3 separate regions of the Homo sapiens genome follow, and regions 1 and 3 are each linked to region 2. Evidence: fine-mapped expression QTL. A gene starts in region 2. Each other region holds a variant in brackets. All regions are shown on one strand. Distances are from middle to middle. Region 1 has its middle 35 kb from the start of LINC00402. Region 2 holds the start of LINC00402 (long intergenic non-protein coding RNA 402). Region 3 overlaps LINC00402 (long intergenic non-protein coding RNA 402).

What was found.
Region 1: its variant is fine-mapped to the expression of LINC00402 in whole blood (INTERVAL, PIP 0.92).
Region 3: its variant is fine-mapped to the expression of LINC00402 in whole blood (TOPMed, PIP 0.98).

What each region holds. Positions count from the first base shown.
Region 1 is chr13:74,264,186-74,269,543 of GRCh38, reverse strand. It overlaps a transcript of KLF12 not described here. Among named protein-coding and RNA genes, the nearest start is that of LINC00402, 35 kb to the right of the region's middle. The variant T/C (reference allele first, on the strand shown) is at 2,213.
Region 2 is chr13:74,229,453-74,234,810 of GRCh38, reverse strand. LINC00402 (long intergenic non-protein coding RNA 402) reads right to left here and starts at 3,367. Exons shown (of 2, transcript NR_144451.1): 1 at 3,059-3,367. It also overlaps a transcript of KLF12 not described here.
Region 3 is chr13:74,254,396-74,259,753 of GRCh38, reverse strand. It overlaps LINC00402 (long intergenic non-protein coding RNA 402), which reads right to left. Exons shown (of 2, transcript NR_144451.1): 2 at 1-2,821. It also overlaps a transcript of KLF12 not described here. Among named protein-coding and RNA genes, the nearest start is that of LINC00402, 26 kb to the right of the region's middle. The variant C/A (reference allele first, on the strand shown) is at 2,746.

The sequences.
Region 1 (5,358 bases), 35 kb before region 2:
CAACAAGGAGACCATCCAGAGTCCCATTATATACAAATCTAAATACATGTCTTGGCTCTTTAGTCACAATCTATTCTTCTCTAATTTTGCCTCCATCACACATAAATATTGTTCAGCCTGTGAACTCAGTATGCTCTATATGAAATAGTGGTGTGCTCTATATGAGCATACTGTGAACTCAGTATGCTCTATATGAAATGAGCAGGAAATAAAAGGTAGATTAGTTAAATATGTAACTATATACAAAGAGAGAGAGAGACAGAGCAAGTAAAATAATACAGAAGTGACTACACTTCTTGTTTATGGAAAATCATGAAGATGAATATGCCTTCCCCACTCCTTCATTTCATGTCCCCTTTGCCATCAGCCGGCACAAAAGCTGGTTGAATAACATTATCTCTGGGGTAATCCAAACCTTTATTCCTGAGAATTCTAAGTCTTAGATGATCCTGCTGTATATGACTAAAGTCACCTTTAAGCCATTTTTAATTTATTGCTATACTTGGCAATGCAAAGGTCTTCCCCAGCCCCACTTTCGTCTCAGTTGATTCTGTCCATTCTCCTTTCTGCCTCCACTGTGAACTAGCAACTCTATTTTTCTTCAGTGTCAGGATTAATCACCCCAGACAGCACTATAATCCCTCTTTTTAGTATACTCAACTCATGGTGAAGAACCTAAAAAGACCAAATAGCTGTCTCAGCTTCCAACTCAAAAGAACACTTGTTACAATGCCTGGTGGATGCATTCATCTCTTGCTTACTAAATCCTCTAAGCCAGAAGTGTTTGGAGTTAGCACAATTTCTAGGGCACATTATGAGCTGTAACCTGAAAAGCATAAAATTTTCTATCACCCTTCTTCTCCAGACTCGCATATTATCTATCTCTGAGAGAAATCATTCCATATACTGCTCTCCTGAACAGGAGTTCCAATCTCATAAGGAGAACTCCTAAATGAAACTGTAAGAGATCCTCCAATGAGCCTCTGAATTATACTGTAAGTGAGCTGCTTTGGGATGATAGGGTACATGATAAAACCACTTATCCCATGACCAGCAGCATATTACCTGATTTCACTCACAAAATAACAATTTCATGGCCAGAGAAATGTTGGACGACATAATCTGATGAGCTAAGAGGCATCTGTTAAGTCCATAATTAACGGTGCTTCTAGAAATATAATAGGCAGAAAAAACAAATCCAGTCCATATCCTTAAGGTGTTTTTCAGTTGGCACAAATACTTGATGTCCCACTAAAAAAAGTAATCACCCTGCCAAAAGTCCCACCCAGGTTCTAGCTCCTTAGCTAAAAATGGACTAATAATTCTACTGGAAAAATTGAGCCCTCAGCAACAGTGATAGCAAAATAATATAGAGAATCTCTCCTTAGTATATTTGTCCCTTTGGCTGTTGTAACAAATTGTCACAAACTCAGTAGCTTAAAACAACAAAAATTCATTCTCTCACAGTTCCGGGGTCCAGAAGTCAGAATCAAGACATCAGTAGGACCTTGTTCCTCCTGAAGACTCTAGGAGAATCTCCTTCCTTGCTTCTTTCAGCTTCTAGTGACCCCAGGTATCCTTTGGCTTTTGACTACGTAACTCCAATCTCTGCCTCCATCTTCACATGGCCTTCTCTGTGTCTCTCTTCTCCTCCACTGCCTCTTTTTTAAAAAATTAATCATAATAATTGTACACATTTGGACGTACATGTGATATTTTGATACATGCATATACTATGTAGCAATCAAATCAGGGCAATTGGGGTATCCATCACCTAAAACATTTATCATTTCTTCATATTGAGCACATCCCAAATCTTCTCTTCTAGATATTTTTAACTATACAATAAATTATTGCTAACCATAGTCACCTGACTGTGCTAACACTAGAGCCTATTTCTTCTCTATAACCATAATTTTGTACCCATTAACCAACCTCTCTTCATCCCTCCTTCCCCCTACACTTTCCAGCCTGTGGTAGCCATCATTCTACTCTCTACCTCCATGAGATCAACTTTTAAAGCTCCCACGTATGAGTGAGAACATGCAATATTTGTCTTTCTGTACCTAGCTTTTTGCACTTCACATAATGAGCTCCAGGCTCATCCATGTTGCCATGAACGACAGGGTTTTCTTTTTTGTGGCTGAATAATATTCCATCCTGTATATATACCACTATTCATCAGTTGATGGACACTTAGTTTGCTTCCACA[T/C]CTTGGCTATTGTTCTGTCTCTTATAAGGATACATTTTGATGGATTTAGAAGCTACTCAGGAAATCCAGGTGATCTTGTCTCAAATTCCTTAACTTTATTAGACCTGTAAAGACTCTTTCTCAAATAAGGTCATATTCACAGATTCTGGGGATTAGGATGTGGGCATATCTTTTGGGGACCATCATTCAATCCAACACAGTAGTTTTCACTATCACCATTGCTACATAATTCATGAGATCATTATGCAAGTATGAGGAGAATGGGCGGGGAGGCTGACTGACATCTAGAGAGTGAGTTATCATCTATCCTGAACCTTAAGAGACTCTTGATAAGCATTCAAATGGTACACTAATATTTTTCCACTCTGAGAGCATTCAGATGGAAAAAGATATCCACTACCCTCTACCAAAATATTCTTGTTACTTCTAAGCTTCTGACTACCTGCTCAAATTATTAATCATTACCCACTGGTCCACTGGTTTTTGTTATTACTTAACTCAATCTATGACTTCTTCCAGGCAAATTAGACAACAGGATTACTTCTCTTTAGGACCAGCATTGAATTAAGAAGTACAATCATTTACCATAAGTCCACCAGTGCTGGCCCCAGGAAATCAGGAAGAAGCATCTGTAAACCAAGAGCTATCTATCTATCTACGTATCTATCCATTTATTGATTTATTTGGCATCTCAGGCTACTAATTAGTCACAGGAATCCTTCCATGAGGCCACTGGGGTTGAGAGAGAACAGCAGCGTAGCAGGATGATACCAGGAAGATGAGAATCCTCCTTGTGCAATTTAACATGTGCATTTAAGATTGGCTTGGAACCATTCCTGTGCATATGTGTGTGTGTATATGTGCACGTGGATGCATGGGTATGTGTGCATTTCACTTGAGGGAGTACTGCTGTGGATTCCTCACTTTATTTTTTGGTGAATGAGCTTGTGACTCATTCATAATGGGAAATTCAGATCATAATGCCAGGTATTTAGTCCTACCAAGGTCCAGTAGCATTTCAAGAGTTGTTTCTCAAAATAGGACTAGTTACTTACTGGAGAGGTCATAACTTTGATTTTTTAAATGATATTAGAGGTCTTGACTGAGAATTTACTACTGGAGCTCCATAAAGCATCCCAATCTGCTACAAACTCTTCAAGCTTCATTGGATCCGCTGGATCAAATGGGCTGCCAGGTAGAGTTGATTGCACTGCAGCCTGGACTGATTGCCAGGAGCTCTGTTGATATGAGTTAGTGAGGAGACAACATCTGGAACAGCAGCTGCACTTGGAGGCACCGCCTAATTAAGCTTACGATAATCCACACTCATTCTCCAAGACCCATCTGTCTTCCCCATCAAACTAATTGGAGAGTTGAATGGAGCTGCGATAGAAATGACCACAACCTACCATTTCAGTCATTGATGGTAGCACTAATCTCTCAGATTCTATGGGAATATCCTACTGCTCTTGGTTTTTCTTTTAGTAAGGAAGGTGAGATCCAGGACTTCCATCCTTGTTCTTTCCTTTCATAATAACTCTTATTCCTGAGTTAAGAAGTAAATGTGAGTATTTAGCCAGTTGTCTAGAGTATCTTTTCCAAGAACACACAGGAAATGAAGGGAAAAAGAAGAGGATGTGTCTGTAGGTCCCACTATGCCTACAGTGAGATGGGCTTGGGTCAAGACTCTATCACCTGAACATCATACATTTCTACTCTGACCATTGAACCACAGTGCCATTCTTCTATAACAGACATGTGTAATTTGGGAGCCATTATCTTAAAACAACTGAAAGGTCTACTTATATTCTTTTCTTCAGAATATATTTACACCAGAAAACGACCACAGGTCTAGAAATAGAGTAATGACTCTGTTTTTCCTTTGGTGAGCTTCATCCTGAGACATGGGGATTTTATGCAAATTTATTAGGAACTTTGTGATTGCCCATATATCTCAGATCTATAGACTCAATGATCAATAAATCAGTGTTAAATATCTATGTGTCTCTATTAGGGAAAGCACGAATAAATGGCCTCTGGAGGTTAAGTGCCTGACTTCTGCACCTGCCCTTCTCAATCATAGGATCTTTCCAATCTCCACTGTAATCAGGCAGACTATTTCAATATTAGTCCCTCCCATCAATATCCCCAACTGACAAGAGAAGCCACAATCACATTTTTGTAGATACTAGTAGTTCCCTCATAAGTATTTCTCAAGGCCTTAGTAAAAATGGTCATCTATGTCTACTTAGGCAACATAGTTAGGAAGTAGATGAGATTCATGTTATAAATTCGGTCATTTTATTTCTTTCTAGGTACTATTGTAAATAATTTATGGCATCTTAATTTTCTTTAGCATGATCAATAATCTATACAGCTTCCTGTATTAAAAGTAGCTTGCCCTCTCTATGAATTCAGATAATTGCACTATATGAAAAAAAAATAGACTAACCTAAGACTACATTTATTCACTTTTTGGTTGAGCATGTTTGGAATTTAATAAGACATATTCTCCCCTAGGTATTTTATTATACAAATTGTTAAGTATATTTATTTTGTGTATTTATTTTGTTGTATAAAACTATTACACAAAGTTTGACAACATAAATTAGTATGCTGAAATCCAAATTCAGTTACCAGTTTGAAATGAAAATGGGGGAAAGAGGGTTAGGATCTGAAGAGAACTGACTTAAGAGTGGGAAGGACTGCCTCTTCCAACAAAGAAAAGGGTTTTTACCTGAGCTATTTTGAATGCACCAACTGGCTAAGGAAGCTTAAAGAATTTGGATTCTGTGGCTATTTCAAGTCCTTCAAATCCTCCCATATATCTCCATTTTAATATTCAGAATGTCACTCTGTCCCATTTAATATTTTAACTCTCACCAAAGAAGCTGAAGAGGGGATAAGTAATGTGTTAACTTGGCAACTCAAGACTACCCTTTTTATTTATTTTTTGGATACCTCATCTCTACAGCTATAAGAGTCCAAATATTCTGCTAGCATCATCAGGTAAAGTTCCCTAAGCTTAAGTTTGTGACCCAAGAATTTAATATTTGAGCTTGTCATTCTTTTTTTATCCAAGCCACTTAGTTTGTCTAACAGCAGCCCCTCACACACCCAGTTAGTTTTTTTCAGCTGTTATTCAA
Region 2 (5,358 bases):
CATATAATGGTCTTCAGCAGGCAAAAGAGATTTGGAAAGAGATCTCCGAAGCTTTTTTTTTTTCCGAATAAGAGGTAAGAGTGGCAAAACCTACAAAATGTAGGTAAGTGAATCTACTGAATGGTCTCCAAATGTATGTATAGCCAAACGAATGAATAACTTGTCCTTCCTTGCATAATGACTTTTCCTTTGCTCCAATACCTTTCTTATTTCTGACTTCATTCTGTTGGTTTTAAAAATATGGACAGCTTTTAAGTGTAGCTTTATACATTAAAGATTGGATATTATCAGTTATTGGACAGGTACAGTGTGTCATACAGTGTTTCATGTGATTTGCAAACATAATCTCATGTAAGTAAGGTAGTCCTTCTTATCCAAGCTTTACAGATGATGAAAATATGGTTCAGAAAAAAATTAAGCCACTTGCTTAGATTCACACAGTTTTTGCAAGTTAGAGTTCAGATTTGAATCCAGGTCTTTCTGATTCTAAAATTTGAATTCTACCCACTGTGTTATGCTGCTTCACAGAGAATCATCTGAACATGCTGTACTGTGTCTTGGGATGCATTTTTATCTATAGGTAATATTTAATGTAGCAGCATTTTTCTATATGTATTCCATGGATGGCACTTATTTTTAATAGACTTTATTTTTTAAGCTGTTTTATGTTTACCAAAAAATTGAACAGGAAGTACTGAGAGTTCCCATCTATCCCCTCCCTACCTGTTATCCTCCTATTATCAACATCTTGCAATACTGTGGTATATTGGTTACAATTAATGAGCCAATACTGATACTTTCATCAGTGTTGTGGTTTTCTTCATATAGAACTTGTAGATATTTTGGTAGATTTATATCAAAGTATGTCATTTTGTTGTTGTTGCTAATGTAAATGGCATTGTGTTTTTTATTTCAAATTCCAATTGTTCATTTCTGGTATATAGAAAGCAAATGATTTTTGTATATTAAGCTTGTATCCCGCAATATTACCATGTTATTTATTGGAATGCCACTTTTTAATATTATTAAACATTCTTATCATATGATGATCTGAAGATGTCCATAAGGTGACAAGTTGCCTTATTATAAAAGACCCTCTGCTCTTTAATTCTAAAAAGTATATTCTAGATTTGAGATTAAAATTATTTCATTCATCTGTCTTCATATAGAATATTTAGTCATCTCGGGGATTTCTACAAACAATTCATGAGTTACTTTTAATTGAATATTATCATGCTTCTCCAAACTACAATGTGTAATTAGAAACAAAGAAATTGTATTTAAGTGTTACAGATTATGAATCTGCATGGGTGAATATGCTTCTGGAAGAACTGGTAACAAAATGACTTTTTTCCATTGCTCGTGAAATACTTGTCCCGAGGCACTCTCGTGTTTTTCTGGCCACGTATATGTGACATAAGCTCCTGTTGGGAGTTTCCCACCACAGGTATGCATTTCAGGGCACATAGTGGATGGAGCAGGTCAGGGCTGCTGGACCATGGAATCAGTATGATCAGAAGGGCCCTGAAGAAGTCGCAAAAAAGTAAAAAGTTCTGGTGTCATCCCATGTAGGCCGACAACAACAAAAAAGTTATAGGTATACAGTGTATCTTTATAAAATAAGATCAGGCCAGGCGCGGTGGCTCACGCTTGTAATCCCAACACTTTGGGAGGCCAAGGTAGGCAGATCACAAGTTCAGGAGATCAAGACCATCCTGGCTAACATGGTGAAATCCTGTCTCTACAAAATACAAAAAATTAGCCAGGCATGGTGGAACGCGCCTGTAGTCCCAGCTACTCGGGAGGCTGAGGCAAGAGAATCACTTGAACCCAGGAGGCGGAGGTTGCAGTGAGCTGAGATCACGCCACTGCACTCCAGCCTGGGCGACAGAGCAAGACTCTGTCTCAGAAAATAATAATAATAATAAATAAATAAGATCAACAAAATTTGATAGGTATAAAGATCACTGTATACCTATCACTTTTTTGTTGTTGTCAACCTACATGGGATGGCCCAACACTTTTTTGTTGTTGTTGACCTACGTGGGACCACATAATTATCAAGATAGAAATAGAAAAGCTATTCAAAATGTACTTCAATGTCATATACAGTGTATATTTATCACTTTCTTAAAAGCTTGGGACAGTGTATAAAATTACTTTTGTTGATATAGTTTCAATTTTCAGAGTGTAAAAACTGTCAAACCTAGATAAGACACTCTACTTTGAATGTAAAGTAAATTTCTAAAAAGTACTTATCCTTTTTTAGGTTTAGATAATTATTTAGAGGTGTGAGAGCATGGAAAAAGATATGACAAGAACAAGACAGTTTCTTATAGTAATCTGGTTCAAGAAATAATACAAACATATATGAATGAATAAATTATCAAGGTCAAATTAATGTAGCAGAAACTGAGACTGCCAAATGGACATACAAGAGAGTCAGCCGCAAAGGATCATGAAAGTTTACATGACCACAGTTATCAATTTGGAAATAGAAAATCTATTTAAAATGTACTTAAATATCATATTAATCTTCTATACACTTCAGAGAGGTGGAGTTTCATTGTTGCTGTTGTTACTAGTGTTTTTGTTGAATAACCCATTCTTTAGGAAGCACATAATGAAATTAACTCTGACTCCCTCCTTCTTCCCACACTGTCCCACAACCTCTTCCTCTGCCAGCAAGACTTGGAAGGAAGATGATTGTTTACAAGGGAAGGTAGATTAGTTTATGTTACTCCCAGATCTTGTTACACCATGAAATCATATAGTAAACATAGCTTCTAGAATTTTAACTTCCATATGTTATATTATCAATTCAGACCCCCCAAAACTAAATTTCTTTGAATATCTAATTTTAATAGGTTAGATGCTCTCTGCCAATTTTTCTCCTTAATATACAAACCTAACATGATAATAAAAACCAATAACAAAATCAGAGGCTTCCTAGACAGTAGCCCATCTTCATTTCCAGGTTAAAGATTTTGGTTGAGACTATTTGCAAGCATATAATAATAATTCCTGTGCAAGAGAGTCTCTATTGAATGATACGTACTCTGAAGATGGTATGAAGGAAAGAGGCTCTTAGGAAGATCCAAGCTGGCTGCCAAGCTTCCATATCCACTTCAAGGTTTCCTGTAATATTAAATGCTTGGCCTTCACAGAAGATATTTCCAAAGACAACATATACATTATGTTGTATATGTTGGGATAGTCAGGGCTGGAGGCTCCCAAACTTGTATATGAAACATGACATAACAGAAAGAGCAGGCTATTTGGAGGGAGAAGGTTGGGTTCAAGCCCAAGCCCTCAATCTCATTGACACTGCAAACAGGGACATCACTTAACTTCTACGGGTCCAGTTCACAAGTCTGCCTTACCTCTCTAGATAATAGTTTTGTTTTATCAAATCAAATGATGTGAAAGTAAGAACAAAAGAAGACATTGGTAAGATATTCAAGAGGTTAAAAGAGGATGTGGTAAGTGATTACCATATTTCTCCCTCCTCTTTCTTCTCTTAGTTTTAACTGCTTAGCAAAATATTTACTGAGTGCCTGCTAAGTTTCAGCGATAAGCCCTGGAGATACAGAGGGAAAAAAAAAAATGACATGGTCCCTGACCTGAAGTAGCCAAGGAGTGACATTTACCTGACTTTACTTTTATAAGGATCACTGTGGTTACTACATTGAGCATACATGACAGGCAGATGACGATGCAAGCAGAGATACTTGGTTTATACACTACTGTATCATTTCAGGCAAAAAAAAAAAAAAGGTAGCAGCTTGTACAAGGGTGGTAGTAGCGAAAGTACTGAGGATTCAACTAAGATGAGGACCAATGACTAAGCTTTGGATTTAACACAGCAAAAAGATATTCAGTGTTCTTGAAGCACAGACAACGTTTAATGAAAACTAGGAGATCAACAGAGGGTTACTCATAACAGAATGAAAATTCCATGAGGCACATTGGAAAGAATTGGAAGGGAGGTCAACAGGAGATGGAAGCATAGGAGAGAAACAAGCACCAGGTTTAGAGAAGCTTGCTTCTGGGGCAATAGATAAACACTTGATAGTCGTGCATGCACAGAATTCTGTGCAGTTGGCCCAACAAGGGTGTGGTGCCTCGGGGTAGAATTCATCCCGAGTACGTGAGGAGACAATCCTCTGCCTCCATAGTTGCTCACTTTCATGCAAAACCAGCTGTTACCCATTTGGTTGGGGAACTGAGGTAAACATAGTGGAACTGAAGAGGATTGGAGTGGAGTAGCAGAGTCCTAGCCCTTGAATAGAATTTTTGCCAGGTAATTGATGAGAGTGTGGATGAGCACAATTATACCTATTATTTATTGGGTACATACTCTGTGTCTGCCATGCTTAATCTTCACCACAGAAAACTTAAAGATACGTGTATTAGTCCATTCTCACGCTGCTATAAAGAACTGCCCAAGACTGGGTAGTTTGTAAAGGAAAGAGGTTTAACTGACTCACAGTTCTGCAGGGCTGGGGAGGCCTCAGGAAACTTACAATCATGTCCTTCTTCACGTGGCAGCAGGAAGGAGAAGAATGAAAGTCAAGTGAAGGGGGAAGCTCCTTATAAAACCATATGATCTCGTGAGAACTTACTATCACAAGAATAGCATCAGGGGAACTGCCCCCATGATTCAATTACCTCCGACCAGGTCCCTCCCAACACACATGGGGATTATGGGAACTACAATTTAAGATGAGATTTGGGTGGGGACACAGCCAAATCATATCATGTGTTATCATCTCATTCTAAAAATGAGAAAAGTACAGCTCAGAGAAACTAAGTAATGTACCTCATCTACCCATCTTCACACAGTTAAGTGACAGCATTAGGATTTGAATCTCTCCCTCTTTCCATTTTGCTTTGAAGAGCCAAGGAAACATGTCACATTTTAGAAGATAAGGAGTTAGGATTAGGTGGAAACACAACATTGGTAACACTGGGGAGACGGGACTGAAATAGTCTGTATAAGAAGCAGAACTGACTTAGGGTCAGCTGAGGTTTTTGGCCTTCCAAACCAATCCTTGTAGCTTATTCCGGTGCAGGCCTTGGTTGTTAGTGGCTCCTGGGCTGCCCCACAGTACCTATGAAAAAATGGAAAGGAACAGTTACCTTCTAATTTTTCCAACCTAAAAGAAGTAGTTAGTATTTTAGATAACTTTCCAAGTGTTGGTATAAGTGAATAGTTTTCTTTAATTAAGACTATCTCATAAACTCTTACCTTTTCCAAATTCTCACCCTTTCAAGTCTGACAGGAATAAAAACTGTTGTTACCATGCATCACCGTCACCAGAGCTTCCTTACTTTTTACAAGCAGCTGAGCACACC
Region 3 (5,358 bases), 25 kb before region 2:
GGATCAGAAAAGGCTCGATTGAGTTACTGATGTTTACACTAAAAAGATTAATAACATTGAGTAGATAAAAGGAAAGAAGTGGAGAACAAGGACTGCATTGTTGTAGTATTGGCTAAAGAAATTCTTAAATTGGGGTTTTAAAAAAGGCATTTGGAAAGAAAAAACCTTAAGAGGGGCATGCAAGTCAATCTAAATATATTTTTAAAGGATTAACTATGTTTTCTGTGAAAAATTCTGTGTACTGGGAGGGACATGGATTAGTGAAAATGACTGAGGAACAGATTCCAAGTGGAAGAAACACCTGAGTGAAGAATGGAAGGCAAAATTCTGTGTGTATTGGCTTGACCATGGAAGAGAAGCTAGGCAGGAAAGAGGTTGCAGAGAGATGAGGAAAGTCAGTAGAACCTTTACTATCTGAGAAACTATGGTCTAGAAAGTAAATACAAAATAAATGAGAATAAGAGGAATTCGAGGCTAGAAGGGGAATCCCTGGGATACTGTGAGTGTTATTGCCTGGATTAGGGTAATGCGGCAGATGCTTGGTGCCCTGCCCAAATCCCCTTGGCATCCCATTCCCATTTCCATACACACCACCTGCTACCTACCACAAGCATCTGTGACTCTCCATCCTCGGGCTTTCTCTGGCCACAGAAGCATGCCTGGTCTATCTGGGGCACAGGCCAGAAGTTTGGGGAGGTTAATGCCCTTAACCAGTGAAGCACGGAAATTAGCTGATCAGTACCCTAGTTCTCTTGCCCCAGCAGAGGGGGACAACTCTGGGGCATGTTCTACTCAGTCTTCCAGCGCTCTCTTTCAGGAGAGAGCACCGGGACCTTCTATTAGCTTTCTTCACTTCTCTGTATTACTTCTCTACTCTCTTAGCCTTTCTGAGATCAACTCCAAAAAAACTGCTTGCATCAAATCCTGGTCTCATAGTCTGCTTCTGGGGAAACTAAGTCTGAGCAGTGAGTTACTAAGAAAATTGAGGAAGAGTGGGGAGTCTTTGGAGATAGCGATAAAGAGATATTCCCTCGTTGAGTGTTTAACCTATGAATTAACTGCCCATCCCCATCATACACATCCAACTCCACGTTCCCCTGATAACAAAGATAACACTTCTTAGTTACATTCTGTTTATCCACTAAATGTACAATAATGGATCACACCAATACTGTCACTGAGAGAGATATGATCCCGCGTTTACAAAAATTTGCAAAAATATAATTTTTAGTGTTTTACATTATTGAGTCCTGGTTATTAATCTCTGCTTGTTTTGGTTACCACATCACAGTGAATGAGAACCCATAAAGTCAGGACATTTCAACATTAATAAAGACCTAAAACACACACAGGCAGAACACTCACTTTATAGGTATTGGAACTGAGACTTAGGGGAAAGAAATGACTTCAGCAAAGTCACACAGCTGGTGACAGGAGGCCTGGGAGTAAGATCTGGTTTCCCTTTCTCTCTGCCAAGTTCAACTTATACATAGCTGTCTTCCAGCAGGGCCAAATACCTTCAAAAATAATAGGAAACTTTGGTTTTACTACACACACACACACACACACACACACACACACACACACACACAAACACAGTAATAGACCAAGATGAACCACTTTGAAGGAAGTTGCCCTTAGTGTTAACAAAAGAGCAGATTTTAGACACAGAAATCACGATTCATAACATTCAAAAACTTGTCCTCCTGCCACGTTTTTTTTTCTGGATTGAAAGATAATAGAAGTTATGTATAGGAGAAGCAGTTCCCTACCCTCTGGTAATGAGAAGATATTTATCTAAGTGACCTTTGTTATTTAATACAGAGAAGACTTTTCAAGTAAGACAGGAAATAGCTGATATCTACTTATCAAAACACCACTCACCAGAATTTAGAAATGAAAATAAAAAAGGGAAAGATGAGTTTGAGCTGAAAACTTCTAGAAAAAAGCAACAAAGACAACCAATGTTGCCCCAGAGGTTGGCAAATGTTAACACAGTTGCGTTGTGGAAACTAATTTGGGTTCACAAAATCAGATGTGTAGAAAGTGCATCATTTTTATAATTATATAACTGAATTAATTTCCGTATCAAGCTCGCAGTCCCCCAGGTGACAAAACTTAATTTCCAACAAATCATGTCCTTGTGCCAAGGTTGCCTCTAAGTTTCTGGGAAACCTTGCAATGTGCTGGAGCATCCACGGGAGAGGGGGATGAACTTTGGATCTGGGTTTTCCATCCATACATGTTCCTGCTCCATCTGGCTCACACTGACCATCAAGCTCTTGCGGTCAGCTGAATTTCAGTGTCGTGTTTGTACCGTTTTCCTATGGCTGCATAGGAAAATGGTTTGCTTCTCCTCGTGCCATGCTGGAGAGTACAGGGACTCTCGGGAGTTAACTCAGTCCACTAGCCTGGACACCAATCATGACATTTCATCTGCTCCTGTGCCATGGAAAAATTCAGGGAACTTGCTGTTTTCCCAAGCCCTCCCCAGAAAGGCAGCACCAGTCTCTTCTATATCTCAGATTTTCAGCCGCTTCCAGGTCCTGGGACTCAGGCCATGGAGTACAGGCAGAGAGTTTCCAGGAACAGCCAATCTCTAATTCCCTCTCCTTCCCCAGCCCATGTACCTCCTCCAGCCTAGGCTCTATAACTAGGAAAACTGGCCCTGGCTCATTACAGATTCTTCCAAATCTTGCCTGTGTTTCGACCGCAACTTTTGACAATTCCATAAGGCAAAATGTT[C/A]ACTCTGTTTTTTCTCTCTGTTTTGGATGCCTCATGGGTTAGCTGCTTAAGTAGATAAGATGTCACGGAATAACAACTGCAACAACAAAAAAAAGTAGAAGATTAATCAGCAATTAATATATGAAAATATGTCTTCAGGGACAGTGACACAAAATTTAATTATTATTCTACCATTTCATGTGTAATATAAGATCAAACAGTGATTAAAATCGGGACTAGTGAATGACAGTGAGTCTGCAAATAGTAGGCCGTTTCCAAAACAGCGTGGCAACAGATAGGAAAATCTTAGACACACACACACACACACACACACACACACAAGCTCTACTCAGAGTTTTCCACTAATAAAAGAAAAGCTTAATGCTGTATAAACTCACCCCCTCACTACCACCACCACCAATGTGTTGAAGTGCTAGCTTTACCCTACTGATTCGCTGGTGGGTTGAAGGGCTCATTATCCCACCCACTGTAACTTACCTATTGATGGAAGTGTCTCCTGTGGATCATTTCATTTTAATTGTTTTACTGTACCAGTCCCTAATACAGTCCCACCCAGATCCACAAGTTACTCAACTTTTCATCTTCACAACAATGAGATGAACAAGTTCCATCCTCTTGATTTGAAATGTACAAGAACAAGACCCACAAAGCACAACAGTGGCTGAGCTGGGACTGGAATTCAGTTGTCTTTATTTTCAGTTATGTGTTTTGTTCTATTTTGTTCTGTTTGTGTTGTTTATTGTTTTTATCCTCTGGGCCATGCTGATTCCAGTGTTAGCCGATATCAGAGATGTGAGCCAAGTATGTCTTAGCCTTGAAGCAGTTCATTCCTGACTTCTTTTTTTTTTTTTTTTGAGACAGAGTCTCACTCTGTCACCCAGGCTGGAGTGCAGTGGCGCGATCTCCCCTCACTGCAAGCTCCGCCTTCTGGGTTCACGCCATTCTCCTGCCTCAGCCTCCCAAGTAGCTGGGACTACAGGCGCCCGCCACCACGCCTGGCTAATTTTTTGTATTTTTAGCAGAGACGGGGTTTCATCATGTTAGCCAGGATGGTCTCGATCTCCTGACCTCGTGATCCACCCACCTCAGCCTCCCAAAGTGCTGGGATTACAGGCGTGAGCCACCGTGCCCGGCCTCATTCCTGACTTCTTTAAGGTAGTAGATGTCATCTCAGTCATCTCATTAGATGATGGCATTTGACTGGAATCTAAAAACATTTTATTTGAATTTTATGGAAATATATTTGTCTCCTCAGTAAGCAGCAGCAGTCAGTAGATAGAGTTAGTTCTCCTATATACAACAATCTTATTTAGCAAGAAAACATTTCTTAGAAAATAATTTCTAGGCTAGAGACACAATTTTAATTAAGTAGAAACCACTCAATATAATAGAAGCTACAAATAACTGTTTTGTGGATATCCTTCTCAGGTCAAAAATAATTTGGTAAAACAACTTCCTGAAATTATATCCATTTTAGGTCTCATTACATCATGCAATTGAAAGCTCAATGAAATTCTGATTAGTAGCCTGCTGTTAAATGATACCACATAAAAGGCAAAATGTCATTTAATTGATAAGCAACTAAAAACTTAACTAGGCTATATACCCTCAGCAAATGAGTATACATCAAAAACAATGATGTTATATTTCTTCATTAATCCTAAAAATGCACTCTGGCACATGCAATGTGCTGAGTGAAGTTTGTCTTTGTACCCAACACCCTCCTTCTTTAACTTGAAGACAGGCTCAGTCTCTCTTATTAACCAGTATTTATGGAGCACTTACTTGGGACAAGTTACCATGCTAACCATTATGGGGTCTTAAAATGAATAATAAAAATGGTCCCTTCCTTAAAGTATTAGTTTACTAAATATCTGTTACAGAAGATATATTATTTTTAATGCTAAATTTCTAAAACTAAATCCTAGACATTAGACAGGAGTATTGATCAAAGCTCAGGCAGCCAACCTTTGCAGGCACCAATCTTTTCTCCAACATTCTTCTAATTCCTGTCAATCTTGGCTGATGATCACAGCAGCAGCCATTCAAAGTGAGAAGAACTGTTCCCTCTTGAGCTCTATGGTCCATTTATGGCCACCTCACCTTTTCTTTACTTATTCATAGCACAGCTGAGGTAAAGCCTGCATATTTCAGCGAGGTTTATTAATAACTAAGGGACAAACAACAAAAGAGAAATAAACACACACACACGCACACAAACACACACACACATACACGCAAACCATGGCATGTGATGGTGTGATTTAGACCATATATGTATTTATTCTGTTTAAGGAGTCACTTCCCTGTCTAGCTCCGAGCCTCACATCACACGGAAGAGGCTACCTATAAACTTTACCACCTTAGAAGCACAGTTGAGAATTTCTAGATTCAGCAGGCAATGGACAGAATGGTTGTGATCATGGGCTTTGAGGTCAGTTAGAAATGAGTTCAAAACCCAGCTTTGCTATATTTCTGTGTAGATTTCAGCTGTAAGTATCTATAATCCTCTGAAAATTGCATTAATAATGCCTGCCTTATTGGGTTGTTCTCAGAATTAAAAGAAATAACAAGTACTTGCCACATCACAGACCATAACTGCACAATAAGTAG